Linked DNA regions of Homo sapiens: all the other regions are reported to be linked to region 1. The links are microRNA targets in miRTarBase. Many come from high-throughput screens and were not tested one by one. Region 1 holds a microRNA gene; each other region holds the end of a gene's coding sequence.
The links. Region 1 holds the annotated microRNA hsa-miR-4680-5p (AGAACUCUUGCAGUCUUAGAUGU, at 1,238-1,260, opposite strand). A microRNA usually pairs through its seed, bases 2 to 8, with sites in the 3' UTR of a target mRNA and lowers its output. Matches are read on the target gene's strand: a 7mer-m8 pairs with bases 2 to 8, a 7mer-A1 pairs with bases 2 to 7 and ends in A, and an 8mer does both.

Region 2: miRTarBase lists SIRPB2 as a target of hsa-miR-4680-5p. Seed matches in the 3' UTR shown: 7mer-A1 at 1,598-1,604 and 7mer-A1 at 2,022-2,028.
Region 3: miRTarBase lists SEC24D as a target of hsa-miR-4680-5p. The part of its 3' UTR that is shown has no 7-base or 8-base seed match.
Region 4: the mRNA of PAWR is a reported target of hsa-miR-4680-5p. Seed matches in the 3' UTR shown: 7mer-A1 at 3,448-3,454 and 7mer-m8 at 1,634-1,640.

Annotation. Positions count from the first base shown.
Region 1 is chr10:110,895,197-110,899,353 of GRCh38, reverse strand. It overlaps MIR4680 (microRNA 4680), which reads right to left and starts at 1,264; the gene lies at 1,199-1,264. It overlaps PDCD4 (programmed cell death 4), which reads right to left. Exons shown (of 12, transcript NM_014456.5): 11 at 3,267-3,406; 12 at 1-1,326. The coding sequence ends at 1,266. It overlaps BBIP1 (BBSome interacting protein 1), which reads left to right. Exons shown (of 4, transcript NM_001195305.3): 4 at 1-624.
Region 2 is chr20:1,472,677-1,476,828 of GRCh38, reverse strand. It overlaps SIRPB2 (signal regulatory protein beta 2), which reads left to right. Exons shown (of 5, transcript NM_001122962.2): 5 at 493-2,251. The coding sequence ends at 662. Among named protein-coding and RNA genes, the nearest start is that of NSFL1C, 7.9 kb to the right of the region's middle.
Region 3 is chr4:118,719,990-118,724,157 of GRCh38, reverse strand. It overlaps SEC24D (SEC24 homolog D, COPII component), which reads left to right. Exons shown (of 23, transcript NM_014822.4): 23 at 503-1,335. The coding sequence ends at 643. Among named protein-coding and RNA genes, the nearest start is that of METTL14, 37 kb to the right of the region's middle.
Region 4 is chr12:79,588,796-79,592,963 of GRCh38, forward strand. PAWR (pro-apoptotic WT1 regulator) reads right to left here. Exons shown (of 7, transcript NM_002583.4): 7 at 1-3,898. The coding sequence ends at 3,812. Among named protein-coding and RNA genes, the nearest start is that of PPP1R12A-AS2, 99 kb to the right of the region's middle.

The sequences.
Region 1 (4,157 bases):
GGGCTTGATAAAGCCCATGAGGTAAATATGAACACTAAACTTGGTTTTAATTCTAACAGACTATATCTAAACCTGTAAGCAGTATACTCCTAACAGTACCCTCATAAATTCTGAATATAATTCTTGTTTGCTGCAGTCAATATTTGGCAGTTTAAATTAGCACAGACGTTGAGGCCTTGCTGAGTTATTAGGCTATGTAAAAGAGGTTAAAAATATGATCATTCTTTATTGTTAATTGGTAATATTTTCTCATACATTAGGTAAATGTCAAGCTTTGGGTCTCTGGAGTATAACTTTTTGTAACATTAGCCATTATTTGGTAACAGAATTTAAGGATGATGGAATGATGGAAGGTATTACATATTTCTAAAACTTAATTAAGCTCTAGGTCAGATAACAATGGAGTAAAGTGATACCTGCATTTTTTTCCCCAGTGTAATCTTAATTTACTATTGTATTTTTCACTTAAAATTTTGTAGGGAAAAAAAGTTTTCAAGGGAACACTAAGATTAAATTGACTAGGTTCAAATATGCTTCCTTATGAGATTCAAAATTTACTGTGTGAAATTAAAGTTTAAGAGACCTAAAAAAATGTACTCCCAATAAAGAATCAATACTGCTTCACATGTTTTATTTTGGTGTACATTCTTCTAGAACCAGGTTCATTTTTCCAGTTTTGTAGAAAAATAGATGTTCCAGCCACCTTTTACTTAACTGTCTAGTCTTTTAAGACCAATCAGTATGTTCCCTGGAAAGATGAATAAGTCTCATGACTAATTTTTTAAAAATTCTTTAAGACAAAGAAATAACTTTCTTTTTTTACTCCCAAAGCACAGTATCTCAACAGCAGCAGCCAACATGGGGTTTTAGCAGCTTAACTTTACCCCCTAAATAAAGCTTTGTATAAACCAGTGATTTTACTACAAAAAACACTGTCCTTGAAAGAAAGGAGTGGCAGTCAGACATCAATGCAAAACTTGGAATGATTAGATAATAAACATGGCACTTACAAAAGGTAGCTTATTAGAATATTCCACTTAAGAAGAGGTTACTTTTCTGTCCCTCCTTGCCCCCTCGAAAAACAAAAAAAAAAGAAAAAACATTTCCTTTAAAAATTCCCCTTAAATGTAGGTTTATAAAATGTCAGAAATGCCTTGTACCCAAAACAAGTGCTTAAAAAAAAAAAAAAAAAAAACTTGTGCTAACAACTCTTACAATTCAGATATATATTTTTATAACATCTAAGACTGCAAGAGTTCTTATATTCAGTAGCTCTCTGGTTTAAGACGACCTCCATCTCCTTCGCTTACAAAACGCTTTCTGCCCCTGTAATGAAGAAAAAAAAAGACATGAAAACAGATACAAATTCTGACTATAGTCAATATATAAAAAAATTAAAAACTTGGTATTTTTTCGTTACGTGTTAGCTTTTAAAGGGTTTTCCATTAAAAAAAAAAAGCATGCCTCTAATTCCTTTGGAAAAGACTCCCTACTATATATCTTAGCATAAAACATCAATATCAAATCTGAGTTTTTGTTTTAATAAGTTCACTATCCAAACAGAGTCACATTAAAAAAAGTTGACTCAAACTAAAACATTTTATTTAGAAATTTAAAATTATTTCTAATTAATTTCTAATTATTATTTGTAAGCTTAACAGTAAGCCAAATAGGAAACACTAACATAATTCAGAATTATGCAAACTGGAGCTGTGCAACCTATCAAAATATCCATGTTTGGCAATTTAAAAAAAAATGTTTTATCAACTGTAGAAAAGCCATAACTTGAATGTGGAAAAAAATCAGAATTACAGCCTATGCCCCATTTTGGGATTCGTGCTTTGTCAAACTCAAGAAGCCCTGCTCTATAATGTAACCACACTCTTACCTACATGTAGTGGCAATAGCCCAGAAGGAACAGCTGGCCAGTGGCCTAAAGCAGTAAGTGGGAAATAGAACTTAGGCAACATTAGCCCTTACTCTCTGACCCCAGGCCAATAGGCACAAGCATGCAAAACCACACACAAATGTGCACCTTACCCAAATAGGCTAAAAGATGAAGGACCCAAGTCAAAGCTGTATGGTATGTATACACAGAAAGTTTATTGCCTCATGTGACCCTTGAGAATAAAGCCACACAGAAACAATCAGACTTTCAAACAGAGGCTGAAAAACTTTCAAAAAGCCAATGCCAGGGTACTGGCCCCTTTTCATATTAAGTCTAAGTGGAAAACAGCTACATCATCTTGAACATAAAGGCTTCAGACTGTATGAGACCAAGGTAGGGAATGAAAAAGCAGTCAATAATAAGAAGGCCAAAGTTCAGAGTTTTTACTGATGTATATCACTTGGCACATCCATACATAAATCCTGCCATCACCAAGCTAACGTCTGTATTTCCAAACATTTCTAGTAAAGCTATTAAACTATCTTTCATCACTTTCTTTTCCCTCTCTTTTAATGGCTTCTAAAATTCTAAAGCAAAGGCCCCTACCAGGAAATATTTTTCTGACTTTTAATTCTTACAATGCACTTAAAAATATCAAAGCTTAAGAAATTTTCCAGATAAAAAATTATAAGAACTTAAGATTATATAAAACTGACCCACACAAGCAAAAAGTTTAGCTATTACTAAACATTTATATTATTACATTATAAGCTTCATTATTAGCTTTAACAACAACAAAAAAACTTACCAACTAGTAGCAAAAATATTAATAGCTCCAAGGAAAATCACCCACACACATACACTTTCCAGTGAGAACATCCTCCACACACCCCCCAACACACACACTTTCTAGTGAGAACATCCAATTAGCCCTAATTCTCCAACCTGTAAAGAAGTCAAGGAAGCCACATCCAGTACAGGTAAGAGCCTAGATCTTTGAAGCCAGAAAAGTCCTGAATTCATACTTGGCTTCTACCATGTACTAGCCATGTGACCTTAGAAAAAGTACATTATACCTCCCTAAGCCTCAATTTTCTCATCTTATCACTGATAATACCTACTCTAAACACTGAAACTACTTACAACAAAGGACCTGCTCCACAAGATTAGTTTCTTTCAAATAAACTAGGACTTCATGAGGCAGTCCTGTACAGATTTACAAGGGGGCTAAAACAAGCTTCGCCCTTCTTTCTCCATGAACTCACAAGAGTCACGTTCTTCAGTGACTTCAGGGAACGATAAACTAACTTAGCAGTTAACCTTCCCAAAGATCTCATCCACTATTTTACATTGAGAAAGTAGTATTTAAATAAAGTACCTTGAAGGACAAAGATCTCTGAGTTGTTTGGAAATTATTCCAGCCTGAAAACATTCTTCTACAAACCGCTCCAGCACAGAGTATGAATGTGGGACATCCAGATTAATGTCCGGAATTTCATTGTAAATTCTCTCATAACCCTACAACAATGAAATTACATGCAGAATTGTTAGCCCATATAAAATAAATGTCATAAAACACAATCCATCACTATGTCATCAATTTGTATTTAAGGCCAAATATTCAAATGGTTAAACTGAAGTCAGATTTGAATCGTGAGAAGCACAGAAAGTAGATTTGTTACAGTGTTTTACAACTGTTCTCTTTTATTAGAGTCAGGAAATAACAGACATTGGCAAGGTTGAGGAGAAAAGGGAAGGTTTATACGCTGTTGGTGGGAATGCAAATTAGTTCAGCCCCTGTAGAAAGTGGTTCGGAGATTTCTCAAAGAACTCAACATAGAATTACCGTTCAACCCGACAATCCCATTACTGGGTGTATACCCAAAGGAAAATAAATCATTCTACCAAAATGACACCTGCATTTGTATATTTATCGGGTACTATTCACAACAGCAAAGACATGGCATCAATCCAAGTGCCCATCAATGGTGGATTAGACAAAGAAAATGTGGTACATATACGCCCATGGAATGCTACATAGCCATAAAAAAGAACAAAATCATGTCCTTTGCAGCAACGTGGATGCAGCTGGAGGCCATTATCCTAAGAAAATTATCACAAACATAAAACCAAATAATGCATGGTCTCACTTGTAAGTGAGAGCTAAACATTGGGTACACACAGACATGAAGATGGGAACAATAAACATTGGGAATTTCAAAAGTGGGGAGGTAGGAAAGAGGACAAGAGTTGAAAAATTACCTATCAG
Region 2 (4,152 bases), not on the chromosome of region 1:
CATGTTAACATTCAAGGACTCTCAGTATCTGGTGGGAGCTTGTGATAGATGTGGTCAGATTTGCCTTCCTGATGCTCGGCCCTGCTCCTGCCATTCATGGGGGCCAGACGGCCTGGGTCCCGTGACTTCTTTAACACATGTGGCCCTGAGAAAATCATTTCCCCACTCTGGGTCTGTCTCCTTATCTATAAAAATTGGATCACTATCCTACACTGTAGGATTACCTTGAGGATTGCATTAGGCAATTAGGAATAGCAGAGGTTAGGGATGTGACTGAGATGATTACAGATGCAGGCAGAATATTGGGCAACCGTTCTCTGGGCCCAGGGCAGAGGGAAGGGTGGTCTTTGATCTCCTCTTTCAATGTAGAAAGGATACAGCTCCAGAGGTTATACAGCAGCAGGATGTGACCTTGCCCATGGGCAGCAATGAGGCGTGGGCTGTGGGGCCCTCACCACGGGTCCCGCCTGAGCTCTCTCCTGTGCCTCCCAGGCCTCCTGGTTGTGTTCGCACCTGTGGTCCTGGGGCTGAAGGCAATTACCTTGGCTGCACTCCTACTGGCCCTGGCTACCTCTCGGAGGAGCCCTGGGCAAGAAGATGTCAAGACCACAGGCCCAGCAGGAGCCATGAACACCTTAGCATGGAGCAAGGGTCAAGAGTGAGGGGTCAGCCCCAGAGTGAGGACCCTCTGAGTTGGAGAGGAGCCAGGGCTCCTCAACCATTTCCCTACCTCCAGTCCCAGCCTCTAGGTGCCCCCAGGCCTCATGACAAACTCCTAGATCCCTACATCTGGTTTTGGTCCACCTAGTGAAATTCCCTTCTTTGCACCGGGCTTCCCTCTAAAATGTCTCCCTTTCTCTTTTTGGCCTGTTCAAGACCTCCTTGCTTTTCAGTCCCTGGCTCAGTCTCTCCTCAACACCCTTGCCCCTGCTGCAGCCCTTTCTGGTGCGCCCTGCCCCTTTCCCCACCTCGCTACATCCTTCTTGGCCTCCAACATCCAACTCAGAGTCTTCTTCCCAGGAGATGTCTGTAAGAATCTCTGAACTCAACCAGCCAGACCATCTGTGCCCCTCCATCTACACCTTTCTCCCCACTCCTTCCTGCCTTCCTTCCATCCCCCTCATGGCTGGCTTGGGCAGGTATAATATTAGAATGCAGGTTCAGCAACTATAACAAAGCTCTTAAATAACAGTGGCTTAAACCAGTGGAAATCAACCAGAAAGTTGACCATCAGCAGGCCAAGCAATACAGAGACTCCCTGGTATTGAGACCCAGGATTCACTGATCTCATTGCTACCAGGTCCACCTTCTAGGCAGCCAGACTGGAAAAGAGGGCAGGAAAGGGGAGCAGGACCCTCCCCTTTAAGTGCACAGTCAGGAACTTGGCCACCTCACTTATCTCTACTTGGCTGGAATGTGGTCACATGGTCACACCTAGCTGCAAGAAACACTGGGAGATGTAGTCTTTATTTCTGGCAGCAATGCGCCCAGCTGCAAGTTTTCACTAGAGAAACCAGATGGCAGATATCAGGGGATAACCAGTTATCTCCACCACAGCAGCATACAGACAGCCTCTCACCTGCCCTGTGGGACACCTGAGTTCAATGCCCAGCTAGCTAGCCAGCACTTCTTCCCACTATCACCTCCCCTGGGGCAGCATGATGTGGGGCAGTAGTTCCCAAGATGAGTGATTTTGCCCCCACTGGACTTTTGGCAATGTCTAGAGATGTTTTTGGTTGGCACAACCTGGGGGGGTGCTACCACCATCTAGTGGACTGAGAAGCCCTGACATGGGGAAGAGTGTGCATGCCCAGGAGTCAGACACACCTGCCTTTAACCCTGAGGCCTCTGCCTCCTCCCTGTGCACCCTCAGTGACTAATCAGAGTCCCTTCCCATCACGGAACATCCAGGATACTAATGTGGACTTCTCTGCATTGTGTAAGAACCAATTCAAGACCAGGCACGGTGGCTTATGCATGTAATCCCAGCACTTTGGGAGGCCGAGGTGGGTGGATCACCTGAGTTCAGGAGTTTGAGACCAGCCTGGCTAACATGGTGAAACCTCGTCTCTACTAAAAATACAAAAAATTAGCCAGGCGTGGTGGTGTGCACCTGTAATCCCAGCTACTTGGGAGGATGGGGCAGGAGAACCGCTTGAACTGGGAGGCAGAGGCTGCAGTGAGCTGAGATCGCGCCATTGCACTCCAGCCTGGGCAACAAGAGCAAAACTCCGTCTCAAAAAAAAAAAAAGAACCAATTCAATTCTGCATTTACTGAGGGCCTACTATGTGCTGTGTGCACTGCATGCACTCGATACATGTAAATTCCCTGTTCTCTTTCCAGGCAAACATTTATTAGCACTCACTATAGCGGCGAGTAGATGAGTCTAGATGTTTTTCATTACCACAAACAGAAAAACAGCTTGAACTAAGCCAGCGACAACAGTAATTTAGTCTGAGAATGGAATAAATTATTGAATTACCAGACATTAGAGAGGGTAGGGAAGGTAGGCTGAATACTAACCCCCACCCCAAAGATATCCATGTCCTAATCTCTGGAACCTTTGACTGTTACCTTGTATGGCAAAAGTAAAAATAAAAAGAAAAAAGAAAACAAGACTATACAGGTGTGATTAAATTAAGAATCTTGAGATGGGGGTGGGGGTTTACCCTGGATTATCTAAGTGAGCCCTAAAAGAGATGTTAAGTATCCTTACAAGAGAGACACGGATGGATCTTCGATGTAGAAGAGAAAGCAATGTGACCACAGAGGCAGAGTTTGGAGCTATGTGACCACAGGTTAAGGAATGCCAGCAGCCACCAGAAGCTGGAAGAATCAAGGAAGAAATTCTCCCCCTGGAGCCTCCGGAGGAAGTGTGGCCCTGCCAATACCTTGATTTCAGACTTCGGGACTTCAGAAATATGAGAAAATAAATTTCTGTTGTTTTAAATTATCAGGTTTGCAGTGATCTGTTACAGCGGCCACGGGAAGCTGAAACAGCAGGAAAGCATGGAGGTGGTTCTCCACTAACTGGAGGTGGGTCCCACCTGCCCTTGCAAGCCCCCTAGCCCTGTAGGGCCCTGCATGAGCTGGTCCCTGCCACCCCCTCTGACCTCATCTCCCCAGATCCTGTAAGCTGACTCTTCTCCAGCACCCCTCTGGACTTTGACCACACAAAGCTCCCTGATTCATTCAAGTCTCTGCTTAACTCTTACCTTTAAAGGCCTCTCTGGACCACTCTATCCAAAAAAGCACCTCCATCACTCTCATTCCTGCTTGCCACTTAAGTTTTCTTCATAGTACTTACTGCTACCTGAAAACATGTGTGTGGTGTGTGTGTGTGAGCGCACATGCATGTGTGTGTGCACCTATGTGGGTGTGTGTGCATGCATGTGTGCATCTGTGTGCCTGCGTGTGCACGTGTGTGTGCGTGTGTGTGCGTGTGTGCATGTGTGCGTGTCTGTGTGTGCGTGTGTGTTTGTGTATCTGCTTCCTTGATGGTTGTTAGTTGTCCCCACTAGAATTTGAGCTCCCTGGGGACAGGAACCTAATGGTCCACTATTGTAGCCACCCTCATTGAATCCTGAAACGTGGTTGAAAGCTGACTCTGTGCCAGGCCCTAATCAGTGTGCTGAGAAAGAAACAGAAGTCTGCTCTCTCAGAGCTTACCTCCTCCCGAGAGAAGACAGACAATGAGCAAGTAACCCTAGGTGAGTAACAGGCCCCACTATACTGAGTGCTGAGGGCCTTCACAACGCAGGAGGAGGGGGAAGGAAGTTGCCAGAGCAAAGGGGAAGTGACACTATTTTATGCAGGGTGGACAGAAGAGGCCTCCTGATAAAGTGACATTTGAGCAGACACCTGAAGGAGGTGAGGAAGAGAGCCCTGCAGATACCCAGGGGAAGAGCTGAAAAGTACAAGGAACAGCGAATGCAAAGGTCCTGAGGCAGGAGCGTGCTTGACTTGCACAAGAACAGCAAACACCAAGCAGAATGCCTGGCCTGTATTAGACCCCGTAAACGCCTGAACTACATACATGGCAGAGATGAAGCACACAGTCTCGGAAATCTGGCTGTGCAGGTTCAAATTCCAGTTCTCCTACTTATCTCTTGGGTGAGTTTGTTTCTCTCAGTTTCCTTGTCTATAAACTG
Region 3 (4,168 bases), not on the chromosome of region 1:
TCACGAATGTATTGTACATACTGCTGCCACTTAACTCTCTCATTTCATTCTTCTGCACCTTCACTGGATCACATTTCCTACAGAAACCCAAACTCATTATGATGATAATTTGTCCCTTTTAGAAGAAGCCTGTGATAATTTACATGCCAGCCATAATTGTATCTCTGGTACATGGCACATGTATTCCAGTATGGAACACTTTCTAGCCCTACCCCTATCCTTTAAGGCTCAGGGGACAGTTACTATCACTGTGAAGCCTTTCCCGTAACACTCTGCTTAGGTTTCATTTTTGCCACTTAAAATTGTATGTCTTAGGTTTTGGGGTTTCGGGGTCCATGCCTCTTTCCACTCTAGATATCAGGCACTTTCCCATCATCCTCCATAGCCTCACACATAATGGGCATTCAATAATGTTTGCCAAAATTGAAATAGACAAAATTGACCCATTTTCAAATAATGTTTATAACCAGGGGCTGTTACTGTTTTGTTTTTTTTTTCCTAGCTCACAATTGTAAAGCAGCGAGAACAACCAGAAATGGTTTTCCGACAGTTCCTGGTAGAAGACAAAGGACTTTACGGAGGCTCTTCTTATGTGGATTTCCTTTGTTGTGTTCACAAGGAGATCTGTCAGCTGCTTAATTAATTGAAACTTCTCTGTCATTGATGTTGCATTTCCAAGGAGATAATCTCCTTCTTGGTGCCTAATTTTCTAGATGATAATAGGCTAGTTTTGATTTCTTGCTCATTTTCAGAATAACTTTCCAGGAAGAGATGGCATTTAGAACTTCAGCTTTGGTGCTCAGGTATAAAGCCAATTAAGGTACAATTGTACCATAAAGGGAACAATCTGTTTCTGATTGCACAGTTTCTAATTTTTAAAACTGATGTGGTTTGCATTTCATAAAAGGCAAAGTTTACAGAACCATAAACATTCTCAATTTTCTTTATGCTAGACATATAAATTATTTTTCAAACTGTATAGATTTGGGGTAAAAAGTTGTCTCAGTTCCTCTCCCAATTGCAATGAGAAAAAAAAGCTTAATTTTTACATTATACTTAATTTTCTAAAACCATGTAACTCCATTGAACACATTTTTCAACTTAAGGTCTGCATAGCAGACTTTTAATAACCTTGGGATTTATCTGGTAGAACAATATGTGTTCTACATTTTTTTCATAATTATATATTGTGTATGTTAAAACTATTTTCCAGTTGTTTTGTCTGTAAAACTGTCTTTATCAATATGCTTAATGGTTCTTTGTACAATTTTGAAAGTTTCTACCTGTATATAATGGATGTTAACCAGTATCAATAAATCACTTCGTATAATCTTAGTAGGTAGATTTATTTATTTATTATGTATTTTTAGGTCTTAAAAAGAAATAAGGGTAGTATTCAAAAAGTCTTGGCAAAAAGTTGTTTGGGTAGCTCACTAAGAACAAATCAGGAAAACAAAATTTTCTCTTTTTTTTTGAGGGTTGAGGAGTACTAGGCAATAAATCTAAGAAACATCATATTATACTTGAGAAAGGCATTTCAAAGTTCTCTAAAATGTTTTTGTGGGCAAAATAAATAGAAATGGGCGACATGAAACCATTATTAATGAATATGTCTAAACCTAGAAGAATGATTTTGAGTGATGTCACAAAGGCATCTGCCTCTACCTGCCCTATTCAACTTTGTTATCAATTATATGAATAATAATAGCTAACATATATTGAGTACATATCGTGTCCCAAGAACTGCACTATGTTTTCTGGGAACATATGCACATGTATTCTTCACAGCAACCCTGATCCTGTTATCAGCCCCATTTACACATGAAGAAACAGGCTTAAGTTCCTTGTCTCTGATTATATGGCTAGTAAGATTTATTTATAAATTAGATGTCATGAAGTAGGTAGAAAAACAAATACAGTGACAGAACTAAAATCCCCCCCATGTTAGCCAACTGGCATGTTGCTTCAACATCAACTTGGATGAGTTTAACATCATCAACTTGGATGAGTTTAACATCATCAACTTGGATGAGTTTAACAAGAAGAAATGTAAGCTCCTAGACTTGTGTCCAAAAAACAAATGCATATGCAGGAGATCATTCTTGGAAACAACACATGTTAGAAAAAGAACTTAGGGAGTTTGCCATTATGAATCACTAGTGGAATGAAAGCAGATATGATGTCAATCTACCTTATTACTAGGATAGGCTGTCAAATGAGCATAGTGATGGTTCCACTCTACTCTGAGGTCAGGCCACACCTAGGCGCTTGTTCAATTCTAGGCACCATGCCCTATGTGAAATAGAAGCACAGAGCACATTCCTTTATTCATTTGAAGGCTGTCTAATGATTTGTTCTTTGTGTTCCTTAGGGTATAGAACCAGAATCATTAAATAGAAGTGACAGGCTGGGTGCGGTGGCTCACGCCTGTAATACCAGCACTTTGGGTGGCCGAGGCGGGTGGATCACTTGAGGTCAGGAGTTTGAGACCAGCCTGGCCAACATGGTGAAACCCCGTCTCTACTGAAAATACAAAAAATTAGCTGGGCGTGATGGCAGGCACCTGTAATCCCAGCTACTTGGGAGGCTGAGGCAGGAGAATTGCTTGAACCCGGGAGGCAGAGGTTGCAGTGAGCTGAGATCGCACCATTGCACTCCAGCCTGGAAGACAGAGCTAGACTCCAAAAAAAAAGAAGTTACAAAGTTCCACTTAACACAAGAAACTTCTAAATAATTAGGTGCTCAAAGAATATGCCATTGGAAGTAGTATCTTCTCATTTAACAAATACTGACTGCACATTTTCTAGGTGCCAAACACTAGGCGCTATACTGGAGAGACAACAGTGAACAGTACAAGCAAAGTCCCTGCCATCTCTACAATTACAGGAAAGTTTCAGAAATGCCATGAAATGCTACAGTAAGCACACAGCAGGGATATCTGACCTGGTCTAGCTGGGGGGGCAAGGTGTAGTCAGTAAAGATTTTCCAGAGGAAGTTACATTGAAGATGAGACCTGAAAAATTGTAAACATTTGCCAGGTACTTGGCAGTATTGGTAAATATGCCAGCAGAAGAGAAAATAAGCATGAAGGCTCAGAGTGGAGAGGGCACACATCACCCTTTCAGTAAACTAAAGAACTTAAACTTGACTGGAACTATCAAGGAGAGACAAAGTCGTAAAAGATAAAGTTGGAGAAGCAAGTAGAGTGAGGCTTAGCCAAGGAAGAGTTTGGACTTTATCCTAATGACAAAGTGAAGACCTTCAAAGTAATTTAAGCAGGAGCAGCAGGATCACTCTAGAAAGATCACTTTGGGGTTGTAAGGTGATGTAACTTGCAGCAGACAGACCATTTAGGAGGCTATCAGAATAGTACATTTGAGTTCACGATGGCCTGAATTAAAATAATGGTATTTAGTTGTTGGGGGTGGGGGAATTGGGGGAGAGGTGATGTAAGGGAAGAGAAAGTGTCAGAAAACGATTTGTTTTGAGCAACTGGGTAGACAGATGATTCTCTGAGAGGAAACAGAAATAAAAACAGCTTGTGTATGTCAGTGTGTATGTAAAGGGTATAGTTCAGATTGTACATATCTAAGGTAGCTTGCAAGCTATCCAAGTGAGATAAACTATAAGACCTAAAAATATGGGTGTGAAGCTCAGCAGAGAGCTGTAAGCTAAAGATCTGCAAGCCATCTACATATATATCAAGAAAAGGAAGCCACACAAGTGGCTGAAAAAACTTAGGCTGACTCTGTAGAGTGGGAAGGAAGCAAATCCCTAGGGCAGAGAGTCACTAGAAACCTTGAAACTGGGAAGGGCCAGAGAGGTAAGAAGGGAACTTGGCTAGAAGATGTCACAAACCTCAAGGTAAAAGAGGGGGTGCATGAAGAGAGTGGGCAGCCAAGTTACAGGCTTCCAAAAGACAAAGACAAAAATGTTTGTTGGGATTAGTAAAAGGTCATGGGTGACTTTGGTGAAGAGCAGTTTCTCTAAATCAGTAAGGCTAAAGGCTAGATTAGAACAGGTTGAAGAAGGGGAGGCAGAATGGAGGCAACTCAAGAGGCGACGAGCGGGTGGATCACAGAAAGGGGAGGATTTTTTAAATTTTAAATTTGTTTTAAATTTTAAATTTTAAGGGATTTGCCATTCAAATGCTGGTGGAAAGAAGCCA
Region 4 (4,168 bases), not on the chromosome of region 1:
GCTAAGTAAAATAAAAACAATATGGACTCAGATTTTCTTAGGAGATATTAGTTCAAGTTTTTAAACTGGGAAACAATCAACTTCCATATATCCAGGAGAAACTTAGCATGGGGGGAGGTGCCTTAGTTGATGTGCCTGATAAGCAAACTGTTAGTTGTCTATTAGTATTATGTTTTCGGCTTAATGTAACAACAAAAGAAAGTTGTCACACTACCTCTCAGATAATATCAATTACAATCTTAGAGACTGTAATTGGGAATACAATCCTATAACAAGTTATTAACAATATCATGAATAGTTATTAAGTAAGTGCCAGCACTACATGCAACTTACTGGTCACCAACTCAGAACCCATAAAACTATACACATATGCACAAAAAAAAAACTCCAAAGAAAGATACCTATCACTGTACATATGAATACTGTCCAGGATATCAGATCAATTATCAAATCCAAGGTCTCTGCTGTTTTGTCTTACAGTGTTGAATATATGAATGCTTCTCTATTACACTGACTTGTACTATTTTCAAGAAATTAAGTGGATTCAAAATCTTACATTTTTATTTCTAATTATAAAATCCAGATTAATCCAAAAAACACAAACCACATGTAACCGAGGTAGGTTTTTCACCTTAAGAATACATTGCTTCTACCACAATTAAAAATTTTTTAAACTGAAGAAAAAAAAAAACTACATTGCTCCACATACCTGATACTTAATTTTCTATGTTTGAAACTACTTGAACAAGTGTGACAGTGCTAATCTACTATATTTAGTAAATCCCTTAGTACCTATAAATACACACCCAAAAGCCCTTCCCTCCTTCTCTAATGGTAACTGTTGTATAATAAAATTGTCAACAACTCTAGAAAGATGAAATAAAGATTACTATAGCAATCTTCAATTAATTCATTTCAGAAATCAAGGAGGCAAGTCATGTTCATTTTAAAGATGACAAACTTACTATTTTGAAAATGAGCTCATAAATACATTAGAACTTTGAATGTGCTTTATTATGCCACAAATTCCCAGGAGATTTAAGAAATAGTATTTCTGAACAGGAATAATAATTTCACAAATACTAACACTTTATTGACAATAGACAAGTCTTTTAGGGTAGTGCACATGTACTTAAAAACTACCTTCTACCAATCTCAACACTTTTTATAAATTTTCAGGTGAAACTGTAGCAGATCCTACTTTATTTTTCAATGGTTAGTGTAAAATTCTGTATGTAAAATAAGTACATATTTTGAGATGGAAGAAGGACTGCATGTGAAATGCTTTGCCTAAGTTGTAAGGCTCCTGTCTTTACGCTATCATTAAAGGCCAAAAAAATCACTGCTAGAAATGTTCCCCAAAAAATTCTTAAACAGCTCAGTCTTTAAAAGTATTAATAATTTTTTTTTTTTTTTTTTTGGAGACAGAGTTTCGCTCTTCTTGCCCAGGCTGGAGTACAATGGCGCAATCTCAGCTCACCGCAACCTCTGTCTCCTGGGTTTTCAAGCGATTCTCCTGCCTCAGCCTCCTGAGTAGCCAGGATTACAGGCATGCGCCACCACACCTGGCTAATTTTGTATTTTTAGTAGAGACGGGGTTTCTCCATGTTGGTCAAGCTGGTCTCAAACTCCCGAACTCTGGTAATCCACCCGCCTTGGCCTCCCAAAGTGCTGGGATTACAGGCATGAGCCACTGCACCCAGCCTAATAACTGATATAATTTTTTTAAGTGAAATGAAATGTTCCTTTATTTACATATGAATTAAATAGAAAATTCAAAGTAATTCTTTTAATAAAAACCCATATACTAATATATTTTAAGGTTGGATACTAACAGCATTTTCACAAGATCCAAAGTGTGGATGACGAACTAGGCAATAAGGACATGTGTGCCACATAACTAAGGGTAACTAAAGGAAGATGAGTACCTCACAACCAAAAGCAGTTAACTATGCCTGGCATACCACCCTGTCATGTGGGCAGATCACTGTTCCCATGCTGGGTAAGAGTCTCCAAGAAGGGAAGCCCTTATGCAGTAATTCTGTAACTATATTAAATTTGGTAATCTAACATTAAACTTTTTCGTGAGCAGTGAATATACACATGGTCATATGAAAACTGCCCTGGAGACCGGGTTAATTATTAAATAAACTAAAAGGGGAGAAATGCTGATAGATAAAATTATGTCAATTCCAGGGTGTTCAATGGAATAAAGAAACAGCAGCAGCTGCTTCAAAAGTAGACTATGATCAGAAACCTCAGATGGTAACCTTTAAAAATTGTGGAATCCAGAGTCTCAACCTAAACCTACATAGGAGCTACAGCCAGGGAGTTCTTTCTAAGTTCCTCAAGTGATTCTGATGATTGGCCAAGCTGGAAACTTCTGAACTGGGGGAGAAAGCCAACCTAGGTAAATGTAGAGACTTTTAGAATTCAACATTTGATTATCATTTACTCCACATTTTCCCCCAGCTGTCTCACCTTCTCTATTTTTCTAACAGTGAACAATAAAAGGGCTTGGCAAGTGAAGGAAAAAGTCAGTAGAGTACCTAAAATGGATTTGACTATATTCAAGCCACTTTCATATATTAACTAGATAAAAGGATACCATACTGCTATTTGAAATTCAATCACAAAGCAAAAATGTCATAATTTTAATGTATTTTAAGGGAAGACGGGGTTCTTAACATGAATATGTAATACAAAAACAATTCTAAATAATAATATTTAATAGAAGAAAAAATCTGTATAATTATTTAGAAGTAACTCTGTTTTTAAAATTTCAATGTTAGGAAGAAAATCCCTTAAATTTGAAATAGCGGAATATTCTCTCATATGAAAAAACTGTGTCCCAGTGTTATTCTTCAACTTAGAAATTAGGCAAAGTATTTTAGTACTATTTCTGCTTACATATTGTTTTGTATGAATGTTTTAAGTATGAATAATATTTTGGTTTTTAGTGTGCATGCTAATATAAAAATATGGATTTTTTTCTCCTACACTGACTTTGTACACTTTCCAGGCCCGAAGAATAAAAAACTTTTAAAATATCCTGTGTTCACTAGCAAACCTTGGAACGATAAAAAAAGGTAGTACCTACATAAGAAATTTTACATTGAAATTACAATTGTATGTTTTTCAGGAGTTAAAGTGATTCAATTTTTCAATATTCAAACACAAAATAGTAAATTTTTATTTACTATAGCACAATTCAAGTATTCTCTTAAATTTATATTTAGTCAACTAAAACATGACAGTGACTTTATAAGAGCTTTCCTTTTAAAAGGTTGCTGTTATAAAAAAGTATGACTCTATTACTCTAAATGCTTAGAATAAGTGGAAAGAACAAATGACAGTAGACAAAAACCTTTATGAGTGAGTCATCAACACATAAAAGGTTGCACACATCAGTAATAGGACATGTGAAGGTAACATCCCAAAAGTATTTGAACTCATGTAAACAAAGACTATGTATATTCCTAAGGGAGAAAATGTACTACCAAGATAAAATATATTCAAACGGCTGTGACTTTAAACCATGTATTAGTTGAATACCACACAAAACCAAAAAGGCATTATCTATCATTTAATAACTGAAAGATATTACTTATTTGTGAGATAAAAGGATAATGCTTTTTTAAAACCAATAATGAAAAAGAAGTATTTTGAAAACAAACATCTGTTTGCTAGAAATAAATATACTTGCTTAGTTATTTTAATGTATTGCAGCATAGGAATATTGTGCTAGCATTGACCATTAACATTCAATCAGTAGTTTAAAATATTTTTTCCACATTGAGTCTTGAATCCTCTACCTGGTCAGCTGACCCACAACTTTCAAAAGAGTTTTATTTTCCTGCTTTAGCTGTTCATTTTCATCTTCTATGTCATCTAGGTCCTTAAGAAAAAAAAAAGACACTTTAAAAATACTTAAAAATATTTGAGGAGAGATGAAAACACTTAATACACATTAAAAATAATTCATACAACCAATTAATTTTGAAATGAGGGCAAGCTCTGAAAACAACTTTAGATGTAATATGCCCCACCAAAAAAGAGCATCCATTACTTGACTCTTCGTTCTTACAACAAGTGTATAGGCCAACTCTTACAGATCTTTCAGTTTTTCAAAGGAAGCCGAAAGTCAGAATTTTAAAATTGTGAATCT